2 linked regions of the Homo sapiens genome follow. The protein of the gene in region 1 interacts with the protein of each later gene in a pairwise test. Each region holds a gene or a part of one and is shown in the gene's direction. Other genes may lie near its edges. The genes, in order: GIT2 and ARHGEF6.

Region 1 (8,064 bases):
CGAGATTTGTCATTGTTCTCATTTGAACCATGGTGAAAACACTCAAGTAACTTGTCTGAGATCATTGTGCAAGAAGTGGCAGAGTTGGGGTTCAAACCCTGAACTCCTTGTCTCTAGAGCCAACCCTCTTAACCACCATACTCACTGGCTCCCAGGATTCGTCTTTGATTGAAAGCCCATAACTTTTCATTATATGGTTTGAAAGGGTTTGAATAAACTCTTAAAAAATGGTAAAGATGGTGTACATGCATTTTAGAGATTTTTGTGGACATTGAAGAATTTTTAAATGTAACCCTTTGACCAGGCAGCTTAAGTGGCACCTATTGTCACCCCATTGTGAGTCTGACGAAGTATAGCTCTTTCTTTATTTGAGGTTTCTAGGTATTCAGTTTACTTACCCAGATCCATCCTGCTTGCCAAGTATGAAATTATTCCTTGTTTCAAAGGACAGCTAATGAAGCTCTATGACTTTAAAGGGAAAAAAGTATTATACACACACTAAAAATATTATTCATTTTTATTTTACATCTTTGCCTCTGTGAAGCTGCTGTTATTGCAACTTCTTTTTTTTTTTTCAGATCAGTTGCAGGATTGGACTTGGTAGTTTATGTAAAACAATTAATTGGCTGGGCACAGTGGCTCAAGCCTGTAATCCCAGCACTTTAGGAGGTCGAGGTGAGTGGATCACCTGAGGTCAGGAGTTTGAGACCAGTCTGGCCAACATGGTGAAACCTCGTCTGTACTAAAAATAACAAAAATTAGCCGAGCTGGTGGCACACACATGTAATTCCAGCTACTCGGGAGGCTGAGGCAGGAGAATCGCTTGAACCCTGGAGGCAGAAGTTGCAGTGAGCCGAGATTGCGCCACTGCACTCCATCCTAGGGGACAGAGTGAGACTCTGTCTCAAAACAAACAAACAGACAAACAAACCAATTCATGGACATCATAGAACATTTCCTAATGGAAGAGGCCAGGTTTCCCTGTCCTCAGAACCATAGCAGCTGAGTGATTTTATGATTCTGTAACTCGCAGCTTTCTGCTAAGCATATTGACATGTTGATTCATAGCAGTGAATTAGGACAGCAGTCTACAACATTTACTGCAGAAAATGCTATCTGCATAATTCACTGTCAAAATTATATTATCTTGGCCGGGCACAGTGGCTCACGCCTGTAATCTCAGCACTTTGGGAGGCCGAGGTGGGCGGATCACCTGAGGTCAGGAGTTTGAGACCAACCTGACCAACATGATGAATCCCCGTCTCAGCTAAAAATACAAAAATTAGCCGGGCGTGGTGGTGCATGCCTGTAATCCCAGCTACTCGGGAGGCTGAAGCAGGAGAATTGCTTGAATCTGGGAGATAGAGGTTGCAGTGAGCCAAGATTGTGCCTCTGTACTCCAGCCTGGGTGACAGAGTGAGACTCCATCTCAAAAAAAAAAAAAAAAAAAAAAAAGTATTATCTTGATTTTTATGGAGATGGATCCAAAATCATTCGTCTGTACCCTCTCAATTTGCTTTCTTAGCTTGAATGAAAAAGCATGCATCTGAAATGGTAGATCCACATTAGGGCTACAAACTGTGGCCCTGAACCAGAAAGAAGATAACTGTTTACCCAAGGCTCCCACTGGTGTTTTTAGTCTCAATTAACATTGTACCTAATCAGCCAAGGTAGGTCATACCATCCAACAAGATGACCAGCCTGATGCATTGATGAGCATACTGAAACAAAAATGTCTCCTTTTTCTGACAAACCAAACTTCAGTCATCTTTTGCCATCTGGCGGTATAGCAACCTGCTGGTATCCCTGCCACTGAGATTTCACTCTCTTTCCAGATCCTTCCTGGGCATCAGTAAATAGGGGAACGTTTTTATGTGATGAGTGCTGCAGTGTCCATCGGAGTCTAGGGCGCCATATCTCCCAAGTGAGGCATCTGAAACACACACCGTGGCCTCCAACACTGCTTCAGGTAAAGGATAAGAATTCTCCTGACAGTTGGTAATTTACATTTTAGGGCTCATCATGTTAATAACTTAAATTTCTCCTGGTGTACTTCTTCCATAAGACAAAACTGTTTCATAATTGAATAGAGATGGCATGCCCATCAATGCTATTTACAAATATTATCTGTATTGAATTCAGTAAAGACTTTTCTTCCTACTTGACATAAATCTTGTTCAACAAGCTCAATTATAGGTAGATAGATGAATAGTCATTAAAATATCTTGGTACTGTTGCTCTGTTGACTTTCTAGACTGTCATCGGAAATGTTTTTTTTTTTTTTTTGAGACGGACTCTCACTCTGTCATCCAGGCTGGAGTGCAGTGGCGTGATCTCAGCTCACTGTAACCTCCGCCTCCCGGGTTCAAGCAATTCTCCTGCCTCAGCCTCCCAAGTAGCTGGGATTACAGGCACCCGCCATCATGCCCGGCTAATTTTTGTATTTTTAGTAGAGAAGGGGTTTCACCATGTTGGCCAGGCTGGTCTCGAACTCCTGAACTCAAGTGATCCACACCTCAACCTCTCTCGAAGTGCTGGGATTGCAGGCGTGAGCCACCGCGCCCGGCCAGTAGTCCATCTTTTCTATGCATGATAATGAATGTTTCTGAAGGCTACTGCCTGAGAATCTTTTCTTTAATGTACTTATTCCTGAGTACCTGCTAATATTTTTAGAACATGTTTTTCTGCTTTGATAGCAGCATGGGCTGGGATTCCTCAGAAACTTCTGAAACATTTTAAGTTTTCTTAAAGCTCTTGTTACTAGTCAGAGAGACCAAATTAAATTAATATGTTTTGATTGCATGTAGAATACCCTGTTAAATGAGTTCTTTGTTTTATCTGGAGTCCAATGTCATGTCACCTTTACTTCTATCTTGGGGTACACATTCTTCAAGTTCTCTTGGAACTCAAGGTTAAGTGTGTGTTTTGCCTTCATTTGTCTTGATTACACATTTCACTGAATCTGTGACAGCTGCACATATCCCTTAAACTTGGCTGTGTGAACCAAGGAGCCAAAACAAGTGGGTTTGTATCTCTGATGTGAAAATAACTACACTGCTGTAAAAAACAGATGGGGCTGTTTTAGGAGTCATGCCTTGAAATGAAATTTGGAGATATGATTTATTACTAACTTTTGCTTAGAAGTTTCTAACCGCTCACGCTCATGTGAAAGGGGCTGTTTACTGCTCTCAGGTCTGTCTGTGTTTGCAAAGCCAGATTGTAGTACAGAGTCTCAGTAAAGTCCAGAGATGAGTTGTTTAGAATGCCAGGGTTGACCCTAAAGCAACAATTCCCCAAATGTGGAACCACCAGTGGTATTCAAGACAGATGTAGGTAATACATGTTTTTTTTAATGGTTACATTATTTTACTGTGTATGGGAAAGCTATAACTAGCACATCAAACTGTAGTTGTTTTTACAAGTAAGTGGCTTTAAAGACAAATATTAAGTGAATAATATAGACAGTACATGGGTCATTAAGAATGTTGAAAATAGTGTTTAATTAGGTTTGGGAAACCCTGCTCTAAGGTGTCAGAGTACTTTTTTTTCTTTCATACAGAATAAGAACAGTTCAGTCACACTTTAGGTATTTAACTATCCTACTAGTCAAAGCTGAATCCTGCATATAGATTGATCATCTTTCTCATTCTCAAATCAGAAAACAATGATATGAATGATATTCCTAACAAATGAGTGTTTATAACAGGACTTTGTTTACTCTGTTCAGTCACTGATCCCCATTGAATATTTGTGAAAAGAAATTAAAGTCTTATGTCATCCTGCTTGGTTTTAGATGGTTGAGACCTTGTATAATAACGGTGCTAACTCTATATGGGAGCATTCTTTGCTGGACCCTGCGTCTATTATGAGTGGAAGACGTAAAGCTAATCCACAGGATAAAGTACAGTGAGTGGAATGTTTATAAATACTTTTATTTCTTCATAACAAATGGGGCCCACTGAAAGGAGTGCAGCTATTTTTGGTCAGTCTCCGCAAGGGCAGCAGAGGAGGGGGTTACCCTAGTTGTGCATCAGGTTCTTTGCTATTAGAAATGCAGAATGGGGTGGGGCAGGACCATCTGTTTAGCATGGCCACCCAGCAGGAGTAAGTGGCTTCCTCAGTTGGAAACCATGGCTTGGAGTCTGTAAATGTAATCAGATTTAAACTTATACTCAAATAAGAGGCGATCAGACCAGAAATCTAGGTCTGGGCACCCGTCTGCCTGTTGCCTCACTTATAAGATGGGACTAAATGCTGCTTTCTCCCAAAGTTGCTAAATCAGTTCAGACAATTACACAGAGAAGAGGGCTACTATAAAAAGCAGGTACTCTGGAGTCCCAGCCATTATAATAACTAATGTATGTTTTCAAACTGCAGGTCTTAAACCTTGCTGAAACTTACTTGAGCATTGTTCATTTTATTCTCAAGTGGGGGATGTGGGTCACTTCCTCTTCTTTTTACAGTACAAAGAATGGGGATTGTTGTATCTGAACGAGTGAACTGTTTTCTTTTTTGTTTTTGAACCAGTCCCAATAAAGCGGAATTCATCAGAGCCAAGTATCAGATGTTAGCGTTCGTCCATCGCTTGCCCTGCCGGGATGACGATAGTGTGACTGCCAAAGATCTTAGCAAGGTGGGTCACACCTTTTAAAATCCCTAAAAGAGCGGGCTGAGACAGCATATTGTTTTATTTGAAAAAACGAAAAAAAAGTCTGGTTGTGGGCTTTTTTTTTTTTTTTTTTTTTTTGAGACAGAGTCTCTGTTACCCAGGCGGGAGTACAGTGGCGCGATCTTGGCTCCCTGCAGCCTCTGCCTCCCGGGTTCCAGCGATTCTCCTGCCTCAGCCTCCTAGGTAGCTGGGATTACAGGCGCATGCCACCATGCCCAGCTAATTTTTGTATTTTTAGTAGAGACGGGGTTTCACCATGTTGGCCAGGCTGGTTTCGAACTCCTGAGCTCAGGTGATCCGTCTGCCTCGGCCTCCTAGTGTTGGGATTGCAAGCGTGAGCCACTGCACCCGGCCAGGGTTTTTTTGTTTTTCGTTTGTTTTTTTTGAGACAGGGTCTTGCTCTGTTGCCCAGGCTGGAGTGCAGTGGTGCAATCACGGTTCACTGCAGCCTTGACCATCCAGGCTCTAGCAATCCTTCCACCTCAGCCTCCCGAGTAGCTGGAACTACAGGCGCATTACCATACCCAGCTAATATTTTTTATTTTTTGTAGAGACGGGTTCTTGCTATGTTGCCCAGGCTGAAAAAAGTTTTTAAAGAAAGAAAAACAAAAACTCATTTCTGCACATTCATTAATTAATAGCTTTTTTGTCAGTCGGTTTCGTCTTTAATCTGAATTCAAATGGCAGCCATTCATATAGTGGAGGTTCAGGGCAAAGAGGAAAAGTAAGTCTCTGGAAGGCTGTTTGTGTTTTTCCAATATGGCTTTTAAATTATATTTTGATAAGTTTTTTGTTTGTTTAACTTTGAAATAGGAACCATCTCAGAGTTGTTTCTAGAAGGGACTAGAAAGATTATAGGACAATTGTTTCTTTTTAATAAGGACTAGAAAAAGTACTAAAGGAAGGGGACTTCTTCAGGTTTCCAGGTTGAACAGTAAGTATGATCTTCAGAAAGCAATGTGTGACTCAAAGCTATAGTACACAGAATGGTTTATGATACTTGTAAAACGAGTGAGGTGGTTTTCTTTATGTGGGCCTTCGCATGTTTTTGAGAGATGCTGTAAGAAATGTGCATATTTTCAAAGCGCTGCCTTGGATAAATGCTTACTCACACAGAGCATGAGAACTTACTTATTCAGAACTTTTTTTATTACTTTTTGGCCGGGTGCGATGGCTCACTCCTGTAATCCCAGCACTTTGGGAGACTGAGACTGGCAGATCACTTGGGCTCAGAAGTTCAAGACCAGCCTGGGCAACATGGCGAAACCCCGTCTCTACAAAGAATATAACAATTTTAGCCGGGTATGGTGGCCGTGCCTGTAGTACCAGCTACCTGGGAGGCTGAGGTTGGAGGATGACTTGAGCCCAGGAGGTGGAGGTTGCAGTGAGCTGAGATTACACCATGGCACTCCAGCTTGGACAACAGAGCAAGACCCTGTCTCAAAAAAAGAAAACATTTTCTGCATCTATTGAGATGATCATGTGGTTTTTGCTTTTGCTTCTATTTATTTATTTATTTATTTATTTATTTTTATTTATTTTTGAGATAGAGTCTTGCTCAGTCGCCCAAGCTGGAGTGCAGTGGTGCGATCTCAGCTCACTGCAAGTTCTGCCTCCCAGGTTCATGCCATTCTCCTGCCTCAGCCTCCCAAGTAGCTGGGACTACAGGTGCCCACCACCACACCCGGCTAATTTTTTTTGTATTTTTAGTAGAGACAGGGTTTCACCATGTTAGCCAGGATGGTCTCGATCTCCTGACCTCGTGATCCTCCCGCCTCGGCCTCCCAAAGTACTGGGATTACAGGCAGGAGCCACCGCGCCTGGCCTGCTTTTACTTCTATTGATGTGGCAAATTACATTTATTGATTTGTGTATGTTGAGCCAGCCTTGAATCTCAGCAAAAAAGCCTACTTGATCATGATGGGTTAATTTTTTTATTTTTATTTTTATTTTTTATTTTTTATTTTTTTGAGACAGAGTCTCGCTCTGTAGTCCAGGCTGTAGTGCAATGGCATGATCTTGGCTCACTACAACCTCCGCCTCCCAGGTTCAAGTGATTCTCCTGCCTCAGCCTCCCAAGTAGCTGGGATTACAGGCACGTGCCACCAGGCCCAGCTAATCTTTTGGTTTTTTTTTGTTTGTTTGTTTGTTTGTTTGTTTTTGAGACGGAGTCTTGCTCTGTGGCCCAGGCTGGAGTGCAGTGGCGCAATCTTGGCTCACTTCAAGCTCCGCCTCCCGGGTTCATGCCATTCTCCTGCCTCAGCCTCCTGAGTAGCTGGGACTACAGGCGTCCGCCACCACACCCGGCTAATTTTTTTGTATTTTTAGTAGAGACGAGGTTTTACTGTGTTAACCAGGATGGTCCCGATTTCCTGACCTCGTGATCCGCCCACCTCGGCCTCCCAAAGTGCTGGGATTACAGGCGTAAGCCACCACGCCCGGCCATTTTTTGTATCTTTAGTAGAGACGGGGTTTCACCACGTTGGCCAGGCTGGTCTCGAACTCCTAACCTCATGATCCGCCTGTTTCAGCTTCCCAAAGTGCCGGGACTACAGGCCTGAGCCACTGCGCCCAGCCATGGTGGATTAACTTTTGATGTGCTACTGGATTTGGTTTGCTAATATTTTGTTAAGAGTTTTTTAAAAAATCTGTGTTCATCATGGATTTTGGCCTGAAGTTTTCCTTTTTTGTTGTGTCTTTGCCAGATTTTGGTATCAGGCTGATGTTGGCTTCACAGAATGAGTTAAGGAGGAGTCTCTCCTCTTTGATTGTTTGGAATAATTTTAGTAGGATGTTCTTCTTTGTATGTCTGGTAGAATTCAGCTGTGAATCTCTTGAACTGGGGAGACGAAGGTTGCAGTGAGCTGAGATCATGCCACGGCACTCCAGCCTAAACGACAGAGTCTCACTCTGTTGCCCAGGCTGGAGTGTCGTGGCACAATCATGGCTGACTGCACCCTCAACCTCCCTAGTCTCAAATGATTCTCCCACCTCAGCCTCTCAAGTGGCTGAGATCTCAGGCATGTGCCACCAAGCCTGGCTAGTGTGTGTGTGTGTGTGTTTTGTTTTTGTTTTTTTTAGATAGAGTCTCTGTTACCCAGGCTGGAGTGCAGTGGCACGATCTCGGCTCACTGCAACTTCCACCTCCTGGGTTTAAGCGATTCACCCGCCTCAGCCTCCTGAGTAGCTTGGATTACAGGTGCCCACCACCATGCCCGGCTAATTTTTTTTGTATTTTTAGTAGAGACAGGGTTTCACCATGTTGGCCAGGCTGGTCTTGAACTCCTGACCTCAAGTGATCTGCCTGCCTCGGCCTCCCAAAGTACTGGGATTACAGGCATGAGCCACCGCGCCTGGCCAGTTTTTGACTTTTTGGAGAGATGGGGTTTCACCAT
Region 2 (8,064 bases), on another chromosome or scaffold:
CTAAAAGGGGGGAAAAAACCTAAAGAACTAAAATGCAAGTGCTTTATATAGGTTGCTATCAAAGGTACACGTGATCTTGTATCTTCAGTATGATGGTTAATGTATCTTCTTGAACCCACTGATATAAAACCACTTGGTGCCATTTTAGGAGGAAAGAAAACTTCATTTTGGGCAATTGATTAAACTTAGCTTCATTTCACACAATTCTGTAGCATTATAAGTGATTTGGACTAATGTTTAATTATTAATCCTTGTTGAAAGATCAGTAATTGACGTGTCTGTAGTTGAACAGTAAGTTGAAGACCAGAGTAAGTATTAGATTAAAATTGCCATTGTTATATGCCAAAAACAGTCCAATATTGGCAGTTTTACATGGCGCAAGCTAATAGAACAGCCCAGTGAAACCCACAGCATTTATTATAATTATGGTTCTTCTATTTTTTCTTGTATAAATAGGAATGTAAAATGAGTCTTTTTAAAAACCTGTATTTCTTTCTGATTATATTATATAACTTGCCTTGATGGTTTAGTATATTTATTCCTACTATAGGTGCTCTTAAAATATGTGTACAGTGAATTTATTTCTTTGAGTTTCCATGTAGCTGAAAGGGACAGCAGAGATTTTATAGAAAATATAACCCCAAAATATTATCTTACATTCATTTGGAAACAGTAACAGAACTAACCATGTGCTTATTTTTGTATTCAATTTGGAAGGCATGCTGTTAAATTACTCTAAGATAACCTCACAGTTTCTTAAGCAGTGAGATATATATATATATATATATATATATATGTATATATATATGTGTATATATATATATGTGTATATATATATACACATGTGTATATATATATGTGTGTATATATATATATATATGTGTATATATATATATATATATATATATATACACACACATACACACACATATATATAGAAAGAGTATTCATACCCCACATAGTGTTGGCAAACTGTAATTTTTTCTTGGTTTGAAATTTCAGTATGTCATCATGAAATTCAGTTGTATCTCTTTTTTCCAATCCTTTTAGGAATAAAAACTAATTTAGTATTTTTTTCACAGCAATCTTGGTCCTTAAACAAAGTACAGCAGTGCCTAGGTTTCATTATAAGTTTGATTCACTGTGGCATAAAGAATTTAATTTTCTCTTTCACTATAACTCCAGGAGAAATTTTTTGTTTTTTATTATTTTCAAGATGTTACCTTGTTGAAAATTGAGCATATGTTAGAAATACAATTATTTTGTCACTAAAGCCCTATTTATGCAAAGATAGACAAGGTAAGAGGAGCTAAAGCAGGGGCACCAACCAGTAGATCTGAATCTACCAGGTCCTCACCTGGCTCTGGTCAGTGTGATTTGGCTGCTTGCTTTCCCATATTCTTTACAGGGAGGGAGAAATAAGCTCTTTCTAGCATTATGTTTTGATGCTTTGGCAAAATGAAAAATAGGCCTTCCTCACAAAACCTTTGGGGGCTCAAGCCTAGAGATTTAGGGTAGTGGATCTTTCTGTCTATCAAGAACAGGCCTGGGTCATGGGATTCATGATGAGGAATAGGGACTCAGTGGGAACCAAAGAGTCAGAAGCCACATCTTACTTTGGTCTTATTTTAGTCTATTTCATAAGAATTCCTATTCCATTATGTTCTGCTTTGGTTCTGTAGGGGCAATGTCAAGATCTGAGGAAGAGAAAACAGCTGGAGTTACAGATACTGTCCGAACCTATTCAGGCATGGGAAGGAGAAGATATTAAAAACTTGGGAAATGTGATTTTTATGTCACAAGTAATGGTGCAGTATGGAGCATGTGAGGTAAGGTATTTCAAATCTCAACATTATTTCTTCCATCTTTCGTATTTTTCTTCCTTTTTTTTTTTTTTTTTTGACGGAGTCTTGTTCTGTCACTCAGGCTGGAGTGCAGTGGTGCCATCTTGGCTCACTGCAACCTCTGCCTCCTGGGTTCAAGCAATCCTCCTGCCTGAGCCTCTTAAGTAGTTTTTCTTCCTTGTTCTTCCATCAAAGTCAAATGCTACAACATTCAAATCAGAAGCTGAGCACCTGTTCTTTGTTGAACATTCTGCTAGGTGCTGTGGGAGATAGGAGAAAAGAACAAGCAATGATCCCTGTTTTCAAAGAACTCATTAAAAACAGACTAAAACACAAGTTGCAACTAGCTGACAAACCAAATAGTCAATGTTCGATTTTGCAATCTCAACAAGAGTCCATAGAAGTTCACAGGAGGGAGAGATCAAGAAGACCTTACGGAGACAGGACTTGAGGAGGGGGCACAAAAACAAAAGGGGAGGATTTCGCAAGGCAGAGGTCATTGTTATCTTAGGAGAGAACAGAAATGTGGCTTTGGTTTGCTGCAGCACAGTAAGGAAACCAGCCTGTAGGGAGCAAAAGAAGCAACTTGGCCCTAGTAAAAGATTGATTGAGTCAGGTAGAATTAGACTATGCAGAAGCTTGACATCAGGCAAGAGTAGTTCAGATGGATGCAACAGGCCATGGGAAATAATGAAAGAGTCCACAGTCATAGAACAACACTCCGAAAGGGATGTTTCACACTAATCTGCGACCTATATATGTCAAATGAACTGGAGGGAATGGACGAGAAGCAGAAAGGCCAGCTGGGATGGAAAGTGAGAAGGAGTCCCCTAAGACGGTGGTAACACTGGGAATGGAGCAGAAGGAGCAAATTGGAGGCATCTTTAGAAGGGAAAGCCAACAGGAAGTGGTGCCCCTGGGTTAGAGGAGATGAAGAATATAATTTTAGACCTGTAGATATCTGGGTGGAGATGTCCCATAGGCAGCTGTTAATGTAGTATGGAAATGTGAGTGAGAGGTCAGAGTTAGAGGCAGAGACTTAGATGTCCCTAACAGATGTGCCTTCCTAGGAAGTAAATATCCAGAGAGAAGCCCGGGGGGTGGGGGGAGCTGAAGATGGATTATTTCTTTTAGGAAGGAGCCAGGGAAAGGGAGAAAGGTTGATTATGGCACCTGGTTTGATGTATCGGGTGTTAGAATTGTCTTCCTTCTCCCAAAACATCTTCCTACGCTCTCTGACACGTCTTTGGCGGAGATTCATTACTTTGGGTTAATAAGCAATCTCATTTAAAATGCAAATACCCCAGGGAAGGTTACTGCAGTGAGTCTAACTATTAGTCATTCACACCTTTGGGATAAACCCCTTGGGTGAAGGCAGGAGGAATCAGTGCCAGAAAAAATAAAAAGACAAAGAGGAAGGTAGAGAAGAACTGGGGGAGCATGGTGTCATGGAAATTCCACGAGGAGCATTTGAAAATGGCCAGTGTGCTGACTGCTGCTGAAGGTTCAGAGGGCAAGGAATGTGAAGACCAAGAGGAAGCCATTGGATTTTGCTAGAAGGCAGTTACTGATGACTTTCCAAGAGCAATGGGGGTGCAGTTAGGGATGGATCAATGCAGAGAAAATGAAGGCAGCAAGTAATTTGCCAATAAAATGTCAAGAAATGGGATATTATGCATAAAGGGCCACATGGGGGCAAGCCAAGGTCTGTTAGGATAGGAGGTGTACATATGTTAAAGAAAAAGAGGAACAGCTAGTAAAAGAGAAGAGGATGCTGGGAGAAGAAGAGGTGTCTGTAGAGGAAAACTAAGTGAAACAAAGATGTGAGAGAATGTGGAGCACTTGTTAGAATAGTTAGCCTGGAAGGGTTGCTCTTCTCAAATGGAAGGAAGGAGATGGAGACAGGCATAAGGATAATTGTAGCTAAGATGGCTGGGCATGGAAGGCAAACGTAATTTTTGCGTATACTAATTGCATATCTGTTGAAGGGGCTCACAGCAGCCCTCACGTTTCAAGGTTTCCTCAGTGCCATTAAAAAGTGTATGGGAGGCTGAGGTGGGTGGATCACCTGAAGTCGGGAGTTTGAGACCACCCTGACCAACATGGAGAAACCCCATCTCTACTAAAAATACAAAATTAGCCGGGAGTGGTGGCACATGTGTGTAATCCCAGCTACTTGGGAGGCTGAGGCAGGAGAATCGCTTGAACCCGGGAGGTGGAGGTTGTGGTGAGCCGAGATCGTGCCATTGCACTCCAACCTGGGCAAAAAGAGCGAAACTCCGTCTCAAGAAAAAAAAAAGAAAGTGTATCTACTTTTATGTTTTACATAAATCCAATAATTATCTTGTTCTTAATGACCAAAGCTAATTTTATGAATACGACTTTAACAAACATGTTAGAGCATACTAAATCTCTTATCACCTGAAAACCCCTTCATCTTGCCATTTTTTCAAAGTAAAATATATTTTCATTTTGTGAACCTGGAGACTTATTTTGTGCCCAGGTCTAGCACATCTCACTGGCTGCATAAACTGTGGTGACTTCTCAGGCTTTCATACATGGAAAGCAAGCATGGTTATTTGTATTTAATTGTTATGTATAAGAAGAAGAGAGATAAACTGTGGGTTTATGTCCATGTCAAAGTAAAATTCAACTAGTTTTGTGTTTTCAAGTTGGGTATCTTTTTTAAAAAAAAAATTACCGTTAATGTTTCAGTTGTTTATATAAGGTCTATGTTATAAGGCAGTGATTCCAGAAATTCTCAACAGATAAAGTGTCCAATTCTGTTCTTCATGTATTATTTTCATTCCCTCTCAGGAAAAAGAGGAGCGGTACCTTATGTTATTTTCAAATGTCCTGATAATGTTATCTGCAAGTCCTCGGATGAGTGGCTTTATCTATCAGGTTAGTAAATTTCATATAAAACACATAGCAGACCCCCTAACGAAAACAGGTTTCCATCCAGATGCAATATCTCCACTATGGCATTAAAAGCTCAAGCCAGGAGAACCAGAATGTTCTGACCCTTCATTGTAATTAAAGAGCTTGTAAGAGCAGATGTTCCTTAGATCAAAGACCTTTGTATTAGTATAATGAGTTTATCTTGAATATATCCACCGCTTTAGTTATGCACTAGGTTTTGCATGCATAAATGGAAACTAGATAAATTAGCAGCAGTATTGTACAGGCCCATGTCATTATTGCTGAGAAAACATAAAGCTGGGACCTGCTCCTATGTTTGTCTTATTATAGTCACAGCACATGATTCAGGCTTCTAAGAAGCATGTTATTAAACTCCTTAGGAAATTAAATGTCCCTCAGTCAGCTCCCAACATATAGAGTATTATAAGTTACTATTGCCTGTTCCATCTTGGCCTGGCAATTAATAATTTTCATAACATCTGAGCCTTCACTTTTTTTTACTGATTCTTATGAAAATGTGTTAGAAAAGTAAACTGCTTTGTAAATCCTGATCTTATAGTTTAGGGTGTGTTAGCCAAACACAATCCACATTTTCCCCTTGCTTTCTTAGTCTGATTAAAATTTAGAGCAGGGAAACATATTATCTATTGACAGACTGGAGAAATACGTCTAGCCATAGTTTTGCCTTGCTGAGAGGGTCAGAAAATCTAAGTGAAATAAACAGAGACCTGTATAACTGCAGAATTAATGAGAATGTTCTTTTTCTAATAGGGAAAAATACCAATAGCAGGAACGGTGGTGACTAGATTAGATGAAATTGAAGGGAATGACTGCACATTTGAAATCACTGGTAGGTAATTTTCTCTTTTTCATGTAACTACTTCCAATTCTTTTTGGAATGAAGGGGAATTTAATAAATAAATGCCATTATTTCCTGTTACATAGGCCACGAGCAAATTTTATGCGGGCATGGCAAAGTATATTCCATTTCCTGGGATAATTAGGGTACAGCAATAGCACAGAGAAGTCTCCTCTCATTCAAAAGCCATGGCTTTGCCATTAGTTTCAATTTTCTGTTGCATGAGAGCTACTTGTGAGAGCTAAGGAATAACGAAATGGACTGATGTAAACGCAATTTTCTTCCCCTCTGTCATTTGTTCCCTGGTGGCAGAGGAGCCAAAGATATGGACTTTTATCAGCAATTTTATCATCAGCCCATGAGTTAGTAAGATTTGGTTGTATTTCTAAAAAGTTCTGAAAAGCCATCAAATTTTCTTCACAAATTGAGCATAATGCCAGGCTTCAGTAATGCCCCCTGACATTTTAGCTTATGATCCCTTTTGCCAGGTCTGTGTCATTTATATGTAGTGGCCTGACTGTTGGTGCTGATATGGCACAGTGGCTAAGACTGGGATCATGGCCTTACCCTCTTCTTTCCCAAGAAGGAGCTTAAGGTTTGGTGTTTGCCAAAAGGTTGTAAATAGTCTTAGTTGGATCTTGTTCCAACTTTGATACCAGGGGAACCAGGACAATATTCCCACTTTAGACTTAACTAGATGGACTATGTGCTTATGTTTTTGGATTGCAAGTTTGTTTATGGTGAAGTTTTACACTACTTTTAAGCTTCTGTAAGCAGTAAAAATCAAGGACAGTTTTCTAAATCAGACATGAATATTTATTTACTTTGTAATCACAGGTTATCTGTTTCTGATATAGAAATTTCAGCAGGGTTATCCCATAGGTATGAAAACCCCTGAAAATACACACCCAAGTCCTAGTTGTATGAAGTCTATTTATGAATGGGACAAGCTCAAGTTTTTCCTTGCCTTTTGTTTTCAAACTGATCATAATTGGGGGATGTAGGTAACACAGTGGAGAGAATTGTGGTCCATTGTAACAACAACCAGGACTTCCAGGAATGGTTGGAGCAGCTGAACAGACTGATCAGAGGACCTGCCTCTTGCAGTTCATTATCCAAAACCTCATCGTCATCATGTAGTGCTCATTCTGTAAGTAGTCCATGTGTTCTGTCCAGAGATTATTGAGTCTTTCGTCAACTCCTGCCTGCTGGAGACTTACAAGAAGCAGCGAGCACACCCTTAGTCTTTTGGGCAGCCTATATTTGTAGATTTTGAAGTACAGTTAAACCTCACTCATTCTGATTTCTCATTATGAGGCCCATCCAAATTAATGAAAAGGTTTACTTAGAGTGTGCAGTTCTGTTTGACAGTATTCAGATACCCCAACTAACTGCTAGCAAAGTATTTCTAACCAGAAGTCCTGCTAAAATATTTTAATGATAAGCAAGGCTTATTTCCATGAGCAATGGTTATTCTCCTACTAACAGTGGGCTAAGTCGAAACAAATAGTTTACCTCCCTAAGTACTTAAACATCTCCATGTCATCTCACTCATGCTCTCACATTTGCTCAGTAACCTTCTTCAAAGGTAAACTTTTAGCATTATCTCCTTCTGAGTTATCACAAATTTAGACATTGGAATTTGAATTGATGAGATTTTACTGTACTTGCTGAGTGAGATGGAAGATATGCTGTGTTGTTTGTTAACATACAAACCTATGATGCCAAAATTCCAGTTTTGAGGACTGTGTGTTGTGGTTGGAAGAATATGGACTTTGGCTTCAGATCTGGGTTCAAATCTTGGCTTTGCCAATTACTAGTTAGTTGCTTCCCTTGACTGAGTCTATGTCTTAGGCTGTTCTCATGAAATAACCTATTTAAGCACCTACTAGAGTGCCAAACATATCACTGAACTCAAATGTTGACTGCTACTCCATTTTCCTTCCTTACAGAGGAAAGAAAATTAAATTAATTAAATTCCAGATGAGAAAGAGAGGACAGGATCATGGAATGTTGAGTCAATTTTGTGCTGTTTCTTAGAGACCCGATAATCTGGACTGGAAAGAACCAGTTCTCAAACTAGAGACTTTTGTTTTTCCATCTATCCCTTTCTATGGCTGTCTTTGCTAATCCAATGAAGCTATTGTTGTTCTCTCACTGTGTGGCACAAGGTCGGGTTCAGATGGCAGATTGCCAACATCTCATCAGACATTTTCCCAGTCTTTTAGCTCTACCGGACAGCCCCGAGGACCCTTGGAGCCTCCTCAAATTATAAAACCGTGGAGTTTAAGTTGTCTACGACCTGCACCTCCACTTAGACCATCAGCAGCACTAGGTTATAAAGAGGTAATTTTGCTACCTATGGTATAAAATGCTTCTGACAAGTTAATTTCGTAGCTTATTACAAATAGTTCTGTGGGAATGTGCTAGAATTTAAGA

Evidence for each region.
Region 2: the proteins of GIT2 (region 1) and ARHGEF6 interact in binary tests that used the Homo sapiens proteins (3 or more experiments, as listed by UniProt).

What each region holds. Positions count from the first base shown.
Region 1 is NC_000012.12:109,985,532-109,993,595, reverse strand, and holds part of GIT2 (ARF GTPase-activating protein GIT2), read left to right. Parts: intron 1-1,835; coding exon 1,836-1,969; intron 1,970-3,793; coding exon 3,794-3,906; intron 3,907-4,527; coding exon 4,528-4,633; intron 4,634-8,064. UniProt on the Homo sapiens protein: GTPase-activating protein for ADP ribosylation factor family members, including ARF1.
Region 2 is NC_000023.11:136,679,442-136,687,505, reverse strand, and holds part of ARHGEF6 (rho guanine nucleotide exchange factor 6), read left to right. Parts: intron 1-1,682; coding exon 1,683-1,829; intron 1,830-4,661; coding exon 4,662-4,748; intron 4,749-5,537; coding exon 5,538-5,616; intron 5,617-6,629; coding exon 6,630-6,775; intron 6,776-7,833; coding exon of another isoform or gene 7,834-7,845; coding exon 7,846-7,971; intron 7,972-8,064. UniProt on the Homo sapiens protein: Acts as a RAC1 guanine nucleotide exchange factor (GEF).